3 linked regions of the Homo sapiens genome follow. The protein of the gene in region 2 purifies or fractionates together with the protein of the main gene of each other region. This does not show direct contact. Each region holds a gene or a part of one and is shown on either strand. Other genes may lie near its edges. The genes, in order: CCDC12, SYF2 and CDC40.

What was found.
Region 1: the proteins of SYF2 (region 2) and CCDC12 purify together in Homo sapiens (co-immunoprecipitation; 3 studies listed by BioGRID and IntAct, with this or other methods). This does not show direct contact.
Region 3: the proteins of SYF2 (region 2) and CDC40 purify together in Homo sapiens (affinity purification with mass spectrometry; 2 studies listed by BioGRID and IntAct, with this or other methods). This does not show direct contact.

The regions. Positions count from the first base shown.
Region 1 is NC_000003.12:46,942,239-46,945,891, reverse strand, and holds part of CCDC12 (coiled-coil domain-containing protein 12), read left to right. Parts: intron 1-3,653.
Region 2 is NC_000001.11:25,225,945-25,229,597, forward strand, and holds part of SYF2 (pre-mRNA-splicing factor SYF2), read right to left. Parts: intron 3,180-3,653; coding exon 3,054-3,179; intron 2,292-3,053; coding exon 2,174-2,291; intron 1,589-2,173; coding exon 1,498-1,588; intron 1-1,497. UniProt on the Homo sapiens protein: Involved in pre-mRNA splicing as component of the spliceosome.
Region 3 is NC_000006.12:110,225,376-110,229,028, forward strand, and holds part of CDC40 (pre-mRNA-processing factor 17), read left to right. Parts: intron 1-791; coding exon 792-868; intron 869-3,456; coding exon 3,457-3,601; intron 3,602-3,653. UniProt on the Homo sapiens protein: Required for pre-mRNA splicing as component of the activated spliceosome. Plays an important role in embryonic brain development; this function does not require proline isomerization.

The sequences.
Region 1 (3,653 bases), on a different chromosome or scaffold from region 2:
TCTAGCTGGTCTGATAAAGAAAAATGACACAAATTATCAATATCAGTGAACATCACTACAGATCTTACAGACATTAGGCTATTAAGAGAACAATATAAGTCACTTTGTGCCAGTAAATTCAATAACTTAGGTGAAACAGACATCTTGAAAGACATAAATTAATAACACTGGCTGGAGAAGAAATAGAAAATCTATACAGTCCTATAACAAATATTTTCCCAAATAAAACTTCAGGCCAAGATTGCTTCACTGAAGTCTTGTTGAACATTTAAGGAAGAAACAATACCAACTTTGCACAGCTCTAATTTTATTTGTAACAGTTTTGTCCCTGATAAAAAGGATTTCAAACATTAGGAAACAGGTCAGTCAGACTCTGTCCTGAGCAGGGCTGTATTTGAGACCCCCTGAAATCCTGCCTCAAAGGCTTCTTCCTGCTGAAGGCTCTGGGAGGAGGTGAGGGCAGGGGTGCAAGGTCTAGGTGTGGAGATGTGGGCAGGGGTGAGAAATGGGGGAGTACCTCCATTAATAGGCAGATAGGCTATGGGGAGGGCCCCAGCCCAGACCATGACTCTCCTGCCCTCCAGCCATCAGCGTTCCTGAGGTTTACTCTTCTGGAGTTGGTGGAGAGGGTAGCAGTTAAATTGGTAGCATTTCTGAAGGTTGTCTAGCCCAGGCTCTGGGCTAGGCCTTGAGGTGCTCTAGGAGATGCCCCGTGCTGAGAGGTTCTTGAAGGGAAGGGGTAGTAAAGCCTACATGTGAATAGGAATGGCCACAGGCCTGTGCCCTGGGCCTACGGTCAGACCCTGATATGCACTGGGTAGGCCCAGAGGATTCTTTTGCCTGGGAATCTTAGAAGGCTGCTTTGAGGAGGTGGCCTTTGGCCTGGCCTTTAGGACTGGCCAGATGGTGTGTTTTCTTGGGGGTTATCAGAGTAGATATTTCAGGATTTGAGACAAAATGTGGGGTGTAAGAGTGTTCTGGACAGAGCAGATGTGAGGTCGAGATGAATGGCTGTTGTCCTGGGGGTGTGGAGACCCAGTGAGAGCTTTGAGCGGAGGTGCAGTGTGGTCTGACCAGTATCTTTGAAGAGGAGGCCAGGAATGTGGATTGATAAGTTGAAGAGAGACTTAGGGGAGACAGGTTGGAGAAAGAGAGGGAAAAATGCAGGAGGCAGCTGTATTCTCCAGAGTAGAGGGGAAGGCTGGCTGGCAGGCAGGGGTGGAGGGGAATGGCTGGGGGCTTGGTTGTGGTGGGGAGCTAAGGAGGTGGTAGACGAGACTAGGGATTGGGAAGGAGGGAGAAGATGGCAAGATTTGGGAAGGGTATTGAGTGGGGAGTGGGGGTGGTGAGGCATTGAGTCTGATTTAAAGGTCTCAGGGTGAGCGAAGTGTCTCTAAATTCCTGGGGAGGCTGTGCACCTAGGGCCTTGCCTGCTTTCCTACTGAGTGTCCAGCAGGGCCTAGGCTTGGACTTGGGCTGGCTGTGGCCGCATCTGAGCACATGGGACCAGGTCTGAACTGTGTGGGGAGCGCAGGAGAGGCGGGTAGAATCAGAGCTCTTTAGAAACTCAGCGCCACTCTTCCACTCTTGATAGCCTCTCTCTCGTCTCCTTGGCAAGACTGAGGGCCAGGCATCAGGACGACCTGGATCCAGACTTGCAGCTACCGCTGATGGGTTCTGTGACTTTGGACAAATCTTTTCCTTTTCCCTGACTGCCATTTCCCAGGTTTTCCCATGGCTTAAACTGAGGACCTAGAATGGGTGATCCTGCGAGCCCTCCAGGTCTGAGGCTCTTTGAGTCTCTCAGGTAGGGGTGAGCTTCAAGTGGTCTGCGCTTCCCTCCACTATCCCGGGCAGCAAAGGGCCTTATCTTGTGATTCAGGCCAGTGTCACCAAAAGCGATTTTCCTTCCCGTGAATGCCCATTGTCCTATTTATGAATCACTCTTTGTCAGGAAGGCTGAGGTACACCTTATCTCCCCCACTTGTGTGGCCTGTTCATTTGTTCACCTGCTCCTGCCACAGATGTGGATCTTTATCTTTTTTGAGCCCCTGCTCTTTGCACAGCATCCCAGGCTGGGGTCATTTTTAACCTCATGCTGTCTGCAGAGCTAGTGCTGCCCCCCACCCACCAGATTGCTGGGCATTTTTAAAAGTCATTTAGATAGTTGGGTGTTTTCTCATTTATTAATGAATAACTTGGCCTTTGCTGAGGCACTTGAATGTCTCTGGGGCTCCAGGAGGGTGGTGACAGCTGTTTGACCTTGCTTGAGAGCCGAGAAAGGGCATGGTATTTGCAAAGCACTCCTCCCAAAGGCTGGACACTTTCCCGTAGTCCCCACCTACTTCTGCCAGGTGGTTCGGGTTAACAGAACCCCTGTGGAAAGGAGTCGTCTTTGTGGCTGGGGGTCTTGCCCCACTAGCCCAGTGTGGGGAAAGAAGAGCCCTTTCTGCTTTTCCTTCTCTGCCCTTACCCAGGGCAGGTGTCTGCCGCTCCTTCCCCTGAGGTAGGCACTGCAGGGAGTAGCCTTCAGGGTGTCCGCTGGTTGGGAGTTGGGAAGGAATTTTTTGCTAGAATTTGCAGGCTCTGGCTTGCTTCATCGGCTAGTCTTTAGTCAGGGAGGGCTGCATGTGTCAGCAGGGCCCTTGTGGAAGCCCCGTCCAGGTCCCAGCAGCCCTGGGAGCCATTTGGAGAATCCTGACTTGTTTCTCAGTGAAGCATTTATACTCTGTTCTCCCTTCCCTCTTTGGCCATCACCAAGCATCTGCCTGTCCACCCCAGGGCCTGCCTTCCCCAGCAGAGGTCAGTGAACTCTCTCCAGTCTCTCCTCGGTTTCTCCATTGCTTAAGAACACCGGCCAGAGCCCTCTGTGTTCGGCCATTGCCTGCCTTGACTGTCTTACCTGGCAATCATTGTCACCCCCTCCCCCAACCCCAGTCACCTGCATGCTCTTCAGACCACACCCTGCCTTTGTTCAAGCTCTGCTTCCCACCGGGAATGCCCTTCCCACTTCTCTCCCCCTATGCTGTATCACCCAATTCTGCCCAGCCCATCTCTCAGTAGGAAACCTCTCACCCATCGCCCAAGAACCACGTTCCATGTTGACCTCTCTCGTGTAGCTGCTGTCACTTGGTCAGTTATTTTGTTCTCGCTGCCTCGTTGCCATGAGATGAGCTGCCCTGAGTTGGGGTGGGGGGCATGTTGATCTGTTCTCATGACAGAAGCCTTTCTCTGGGCCAGGCCTCCGACCTGGTTTTGGTAGTCTGCTCCCCGGAGGTTGTGTGGCCAAGGAATGGCAGGGTCTGGTTGATGCCTGCAGTCTCCACATAAAGCAGATACCATTCTTAGGAAGGCAGTTGTCAATGGCATAAATAAATGTCTAGGAAAGGTAGTTCAAGTAGCTGTTTTACTTATAATTTATATGCAGGCTCCAGCGCATTCTGTGTCCACCAGAGCAGGCTCCCAATGGAAGGAGCTCACAGATCTCTCTTAGAACACTGCTCTGCGAGAGTCAAAGGCAGGACGCTGCCATAGTGAAGTGAGCATTGTCACCTTCTGGAGTGCCAACCCTGGCATGCAGGGAGACCCACGACAGCTCTGTCTTGGGGCCTCTCAGTCCATGCCCTGGGCCCCAGGTGTGGTCACACGAATTT
Region 2 (3,653 bases):
CAGGAGTTCAAGACCAGCCTGGCCAACATGGTGAAACCCCATCTCTACTAAAAATACAAAAAAATTAGCCAGGCGTGGTGGCGGGCACCTGTAGTCCCAGCTACTTGGCAGAAGAATCACTTGAACCCAGGAGGCGGAGGCTGCAGTGAGTCAAGATTGCACCACTGCACTCCAGCCTGGGCGACAGAGCGAGATTCTATCTCAAAAAAAAAATAAAAATAAAAATAAAAAATAAAAAATTACAGAATTGAAAGGAACCTAAGACATCATCTACGCCAACACCTTCACTGTACAGATCAAAGAGCCAACAGGCAGAGAGGCTCCAGGACTTATCAGAGGTCACAAAGTGCTAGGAACAGAGCTGGGATTAGAGCTCCATCCTGAGGTTATTTCCTTTTCCACTAAAACAAGCTGCCAAACTACAGCAGCCCACCACCTGTTTATGAAAAGAGGCTTCATTTATGAATTCTCTGCAGCTGCTTTTGCACTGCAGCAGCACAGCTGAATAGCTGTGACAGAGACTATATGGCCCACAAAGCTAAAATATTTACTATCTGGTCCTTCACAGAAAAAGTTCACCAACCCCAGCACTAAAGCATTCTGCCTCCTAAAATAATATCTAAGTAACTACGACAATCAGGGTGTTAACCAATCAACAACCAGTCTTAGAATGCCCAGTTAAGAACAAAACAAAAAACATGTGATTAATTTAATAGCTGTGAAGTAAGCAATAAACAGTGCTGTCAAAACAGAGACTAGGCCTGGCACAGTGGCTCACACCTGTAATCTCAACCATGTGGGAGGCCAAGGATGGAGGATCACTTGAGGCCAGGAGTTTGAGACAGCCTGAGCAACACAGTGAGACCCCGTCTCCACAAAAAAATTAATTAGCCAGGAATCGTGGCACATGTCTGTAATCCTAGCTACTGGGGAGGCTGATGTGGGAGGATCCCTTGAGGCCACAAGTTTGAGGTTACAGTGAGTTATGACAGTGTCAATGCACTCCAGCTTAAGCAACAGAGCGAGACACCGTCTCTTAAAAAAAAAAAAAGGAAGGGCCGGGCGCAGTAGCTCACGCCTGTAATCCCAGCACTTTGGGAGGCTGAGGTGGACGGATCACTTGAGGTCAGGAGTTCAAGACCAGCCTGGCCAACGTGGTGAAACCCCATCTCAGCTAAAACTACAAAAATTAGTTGGGCGTGGTGGCGGGCGCCTGTAATCCCAGCTACTCAGGAGGCTGAGGCAGAAGAATTGCTTGAACCCAGGTGGCGGAGGTTGCAGTGAGCTGAGACCGCACCATTCACTGCACTCCAGCCTGGGTGAGAAAGCAAGACTCCATCTCAAAGGAAAAAAATATCCAGAAAAAACAGAGACCATCCTTAGACAACTATTAATAACCCATACCTTAGCATTAAAGCATGTTTCTATTTATGTACATGTATACACACACACACACACAAATACATCCACATCACCTCAGGTTGAAAAAGGACTTACTGTTTTTCTCTCAGTCTCTCATATGTTTCCATGTCAGGTTTGATCTGCTTGGTCAACCGATGATACTGGCGTAACTGGGCAGCAGCATAATCTAAAAATATAAAATGAGAATCAGCGATAATATATTTCCTTGTTTGGACCTTCCTATTGAGAGAAAAATCTAAATTATCACAGGTGAGTATCTTTTATCCAAAACGCTTGGAATCGGAAGTGTTTCTGATTTTTTTCAGATTTTGGAATATCTTTATTATACTTAAATTCAAAATCTGAAATGCTCCAATCAGCATTTCCTTTGAGCATCATAGCACCATGTTGGCATTCAAACAGTTTTGGATTTTGCAACATTTGGGATTTCAGATTTTCATACTAGGGATACTCAATCTGTGTGAAGTAATATATGCCCATAACACTATTCTAAGCATAGCTTCTATCCTGAAGATGCTGACAAACAGACTTTGATAAATTTTATCATCAAGTATTTAAAAACCTGGCTAACTGAAGTACAGCCTTTTTTTTTAACTTCTCTCCTAAGAGACATATTTGTACTTTTCTTGGTCTTAAGCCTCATCAAGAATATCCCACGAAGCACAAGAGGCACATCCTTTCTTGAAACCAGAAACAATGAAGGAAATGACTAACAGCCCAGTCAATAAGGTTCAATAAAGGTCAATCTGACCTGAAAATCCCAGATCAGGGTTTTTCCTCTTCTTTTTCCTCTCCCATCTTTCTGCATCTTCTGCACTGATCTCCAGCAACTTCACTTTCTCATAGTCTTCTCCTCTTGCCGCACATTCCTAAAAAGAAGAAAAAAGCTGACACCTACAATTATGATACATGCAATAATTTGATCTACTTTACATCAAGAAAGATCCAATAAATATCAACCAATACTTTAATAGTATTTTTTTAGTTGGAGTTTCACTCACTCTGTCACGCAGGCTGGAGTGCAGTGGCGCGATCTCAGCTCACTGCAACCTCCACCTCCCAGGTTCAAGGGATTCTCATCTCTTAGCCTCCCAAGTAGCTGGGACTACAGGCACATGCCACCATGCCCGGCTAATTTTTGTATTTTTAGTAGAGATGGGGTTTCACCATGTTGGCCATGCTGGTCTCAAATTCCTGACCTCAAATGATCTGCCAGCCTCGGCCTCCCAAAAGTGCTGGGATTACAGGCATGAGCCACTGCACCCGGCCACTTTAATAGCATTTAAAGGAAATTTGGGAATATACTATGGTATATAAGTGAGCACATGATACTTATTGAGTGTTTATCAGGTGTCAGACCTTGTTTTAAATGTTTTACATGCATTAACTCACTTAATTCATAATGAACTCAAATAATTATTGTTACAGTCCCTGTTTTATTGATGAGAAAACAGAGGTACAGAGAAGTTAAATAAACTCACCCAACGTGTTGCAGTTGGTACTGAGCAGAGCCAGAATTTCAATTCTGGCAGCTTGGCCTAAGAGCCAGTGTATACAACCACCATGTTGTAGTGTCTTGATACAACAGAATGATTGACTAAATCACTTATGAAGATAGAATAGTTCCTAACCTTTTTCTTTTCCTCTTCCTTTAGTTCCCACTCCAAACGAGCTTTTTTGGCTTCCCAATTTGCAGGTAATTTTAGTCTTTTATCTTCTTCCACAACTTCCTGGTGATTTAATTTACGAGCTTCATTCTAAAACCGTAACACAAGAAGTCTGTCAGCTAAAACATGAAAATAAATCCAGATACACCTTGCCTTCTTTGAGGAGGGTCAGGCAGGACATATTAATAAGCTGACCCCATTTTATCCTAAAAGCAATAGAGAGCCATCACAGGATTTTAAGCCAGGGAATAGCCTAATAGGGTCTACGTTTTTATGCAGTCAAGAAAAATGTGTTGAGTTGCACTGGTTTGCTGTTCCAGAGCCCTGGAGGTTAAAATCAGCTTTGCCTCTATTGAGTTGTGTGGTCCCTTTTTATTGGATCAGAACAAGGTTTTGCAGTATTGGAGACCATACTATAGTGGCACTTAAGTAGACTTTATTTGGCATTACTATTAAATTGGCCAGGTGCAGTGGATCACGCTTGTAATCCTAGCACTTTGGGAGGCTGAGGCAGGTGGATCACCTGAGGTCAGAAGTTCAAGACCAGGCTGGCCAACATGGTGA
Region 3 (3,653 bases), on a different chromosome or scaffold from region 2:
TAGAACTTTTGATGGTTCTAAATTTAGGTGGCTACTTTTTAATTTTTTTTTCATTCTTTCATCACTCACATGAGGTTTTTTTTTTTTTTTTATGTTTTTTCTCCTTCACCAAACACATTTGAAATGCTTTACATGTAAACTGAAGATAGTCCAGGTACCAAGCATTTATTTATCATCATTTATCATCATTTCTGGATGGGCTAGATCAGCTCACAGATCCCTACAGCTTTGCCTGCCATCCACCTGCATTGCTGCAGGCTGTTTAACACTCTCACCTCCTCAAGTTAAGGTAGGCTAGCCAGTAAATAACACTTCCCCATAGGCTTACCTCAGACATCTTGCTTCACCCTACCATGGTACATTTTTAATTTAATTTTTGGTTTTATTTCAACAGCTTTTGGAGTAAAAGTGGGTTTTGGTTACATGGATGAATTATATAGTGGTGAATTCTGAGATTTTAGTGTATCCATCACCATGGTACATTATTAAAGAACTTTCTTTCAGTAACAGATTTTTTAACATAAAGGCCAAAGTTTAAATGAAATAGAAAACAAAATCACCACCACTGTTATAATGATCATGGAAAGTGATTTATGAAGTACAGGATTTACCATAAGCAGTACAGTGTCATCTTGTGATTTTTCTTCTTCCAGAAAGTTTCATGAAAGATTTATTAAATATATAATATCAAGAGTTTGCTTTTATTTGCATATTATTCCTTTGTTCCAGAGATAATTCTGAAGGTACTTTTTAAAAGTTGCTTATTCTGATATGCTATTTAAAATTTTTAGGGATATCCCTGTGGATTTCAAGTACATAGCAGAACCCAGTATGCACTCAATGCCTGCAGTGACTTTGTCTCCAAATGGTGAGTTAGTATGTAGATTGTATTTTTAAATGAGCTTCTAAGATACAGTGTGATTTCTTTATTCAAAAGAACTTTGGCCCCTTCCTTCTTGGGGAAGTTTGTCACTGTGCCATTATTTGTATAAGGTAATCTTTACAATATTAGAAAGAATTACTGGTTTTCATATGCAAGTCACCTCACCTACTTTTCTGTGTCTCTTTTTAAATAAAAATAAAAGAAACAATGATTTACAGCTAACATTGATTGAACATCAGATTTTTATTTAACAATCAGTTTTCTTTTCTTTTTTCTTTTCCCCTCCTCTCCCCTCCTCTCCTCTCCCCTCCCCTCTTTTCTTTTCTTTTCTTCTTTTCGAGACAGGGTCTCCCTTTGTTGCCCAGGCTAGTCTCAAACTCCTGGGCTCAAGTGATCTTCCCTCCTCAGCCTCCCAAGGTGCTGGGATTACAGGCCTAAGCCACTATGCCCGGCCAGAGTTTTCTTTTCTAATTCTCCTTCCAAACAGAATCACGTTCAGTAAATCATTTAATAATGATTTGGCCAAGGCAGAAGAATCACTTGAACCCAAGAGTTTGAGACTAGCCTGGGCAACATAGAGAGACCTCATCTCTACAAAATAAAATTTTAAAAATCAGCTGGCATGGTGGTGCACATTTGTAGCCCTAGCTACTTGGTCAGGCTGAGATGGGCAGTTTGGTTGAGCCAGGAGATTGACTATGATCATGTGACTGTACTCCAGCCTGGGCAACAGAGCAAGACCCTTCTCTCTAAAAAAAAAAATAGTAATAGTGATTTACTGTAAACTCTTTCAGGGGATAGGAAGTTTTGGTCTGATTCTCCATAATGAGAGAACACTTTAGCAATTCACTATAAAAGATTTTCTCAGGCAAAAATTAAGAAGATAAATCTATTTAATATTGTTTAATCCATTGTCTTTTACGTACAAGATAATTTGTGCTACAGATATACTGACAATATACTGATGTAATTATAGCTTTACATGAGAGTCTTAAAGTGGGAGTTCTGATGTTTGGGGGACCTTGTCATTGAAACCACTGTCAATTCACATAATTAACTCCAAGTGTAGGGCAAGGAAGAATTTGCTGTTCCATCAGGGCCTCTGACACAAGCAAATGGTAATAGTTGTCAAATGCTCTATCATTTTTATGAGAAGAGAAACCTAACTGAACCTTTTTTTGATCATTGCTAGATTATATACTTCGTCACTGTGCATCTATATTTCATGTAGCGTATTTTTAAACCACCTATTACAGATTTTGTGCCCATCTTGAACAAGGCCATTTACCCACTCAGGCATTATTTAAGTCTGTTTCCTTAGTAAGTAATGTTTACATGTACAGTTGGCCCTTTGTATCCATGAGCACCATATCCTGGGATTCAACCAGCACGAATCCAGAATATTCAACAAAATAAACAATAAAAAATAACAATACAACAATTAAAAACAACACAGCATAACAACTAGGTACAAAGCATTTACGTTGCATTAGGCATTATAAGTAATCGAGAGGTGATTTAATGTATACAGGAGATATGTAGGTTATATGCAAATACTATGCCATTTTATATAAGGGACTTGAGCATCTGTGAATTTTGGTATTGGGTAGGGGTGCAGATCCTGGAACCAATTCCCAACAGATACCAAGGGATGACTATATATAGGATGCAAGTATAGTCATGCATTCCTAACAACAAGGGTACTTCTGAGAAATGCAGTGTTAGGTGATTTTGTCATTTTGTGAACATCACACAGAGTACTTACACAAACCTAGATGGTATAGTCTACTTACCCTAGGCTGTATGGTATAGCCTGTTGCTCCTAGGCTTTACCCCTGTATGGCATGTTGCTGTTCTGAATAATGTAGTCAGTGGTAAGCATTTGTGTATCTAAACATAGAAAAGGTACAGTAAAATCTCAGCATAGAAAAGGTACAGTTAAAATTTAGCACTATAATCTTATGGGACCACTGTCATACGTGCGGTCCATCATTGACCAAAACATTGTTAAGTGGTGCATGACTATAGACGCTGCAGTTTAGGCTCTAGGGGCTTTGATGAATCCTAAGTAGAGAAAAGCATTGTAGCCTTTTAAAAAGTTACTATAATTTTTAATATATCTTTTTTTGTATAGTTTTATTTAATAACCCTAGGCTTTCTCACCCCTTAATCTTTCTTTATTCTGTAATTACCACAGATAAGTCTCTTTCTCCTATTTCCCATAGTTCTGTTGTCTATACTTACTATAAATTAATTTCATTTCACAACTTTTAGCTTATTTCTTTAACATTAAGCTTGGAATTTCTATATTTCCTTATTTTTTTAAAAACTTTTATATGAGAGTGCTCAATGATATAGGATCGTATATGCAAAAGCCATTAGTTTATATATTAATACCTCTTGCCAGTGACATATTTATAACATTTTACAGGTGGTATAGTAAATTTATTTTTTAGTATTATAAAGTATTTGGGAGCAAAACTTATATTAATCACAGTGAACATATTTAAAATAAAAAGTTTTAAAAATTGTTTTAGTCTTCCTCTAAAATACCTCATTTATTGAATTTACAGGAAAATGGCTAGCATGCCAATCAATGGACAACCAAATCTTAATTTTTGGAGCACAGAACAGATTTAGATTAAATAAGAAAAAAATTTTTAAGGGCCATATGGTAGCAGGCTATGCTTGTCAGGTGGACTTTTCACCAGACATGAGGTAAGTTTAAATCTTCTAATCCATTCTCGTATTCAAATATGATTATATAAAC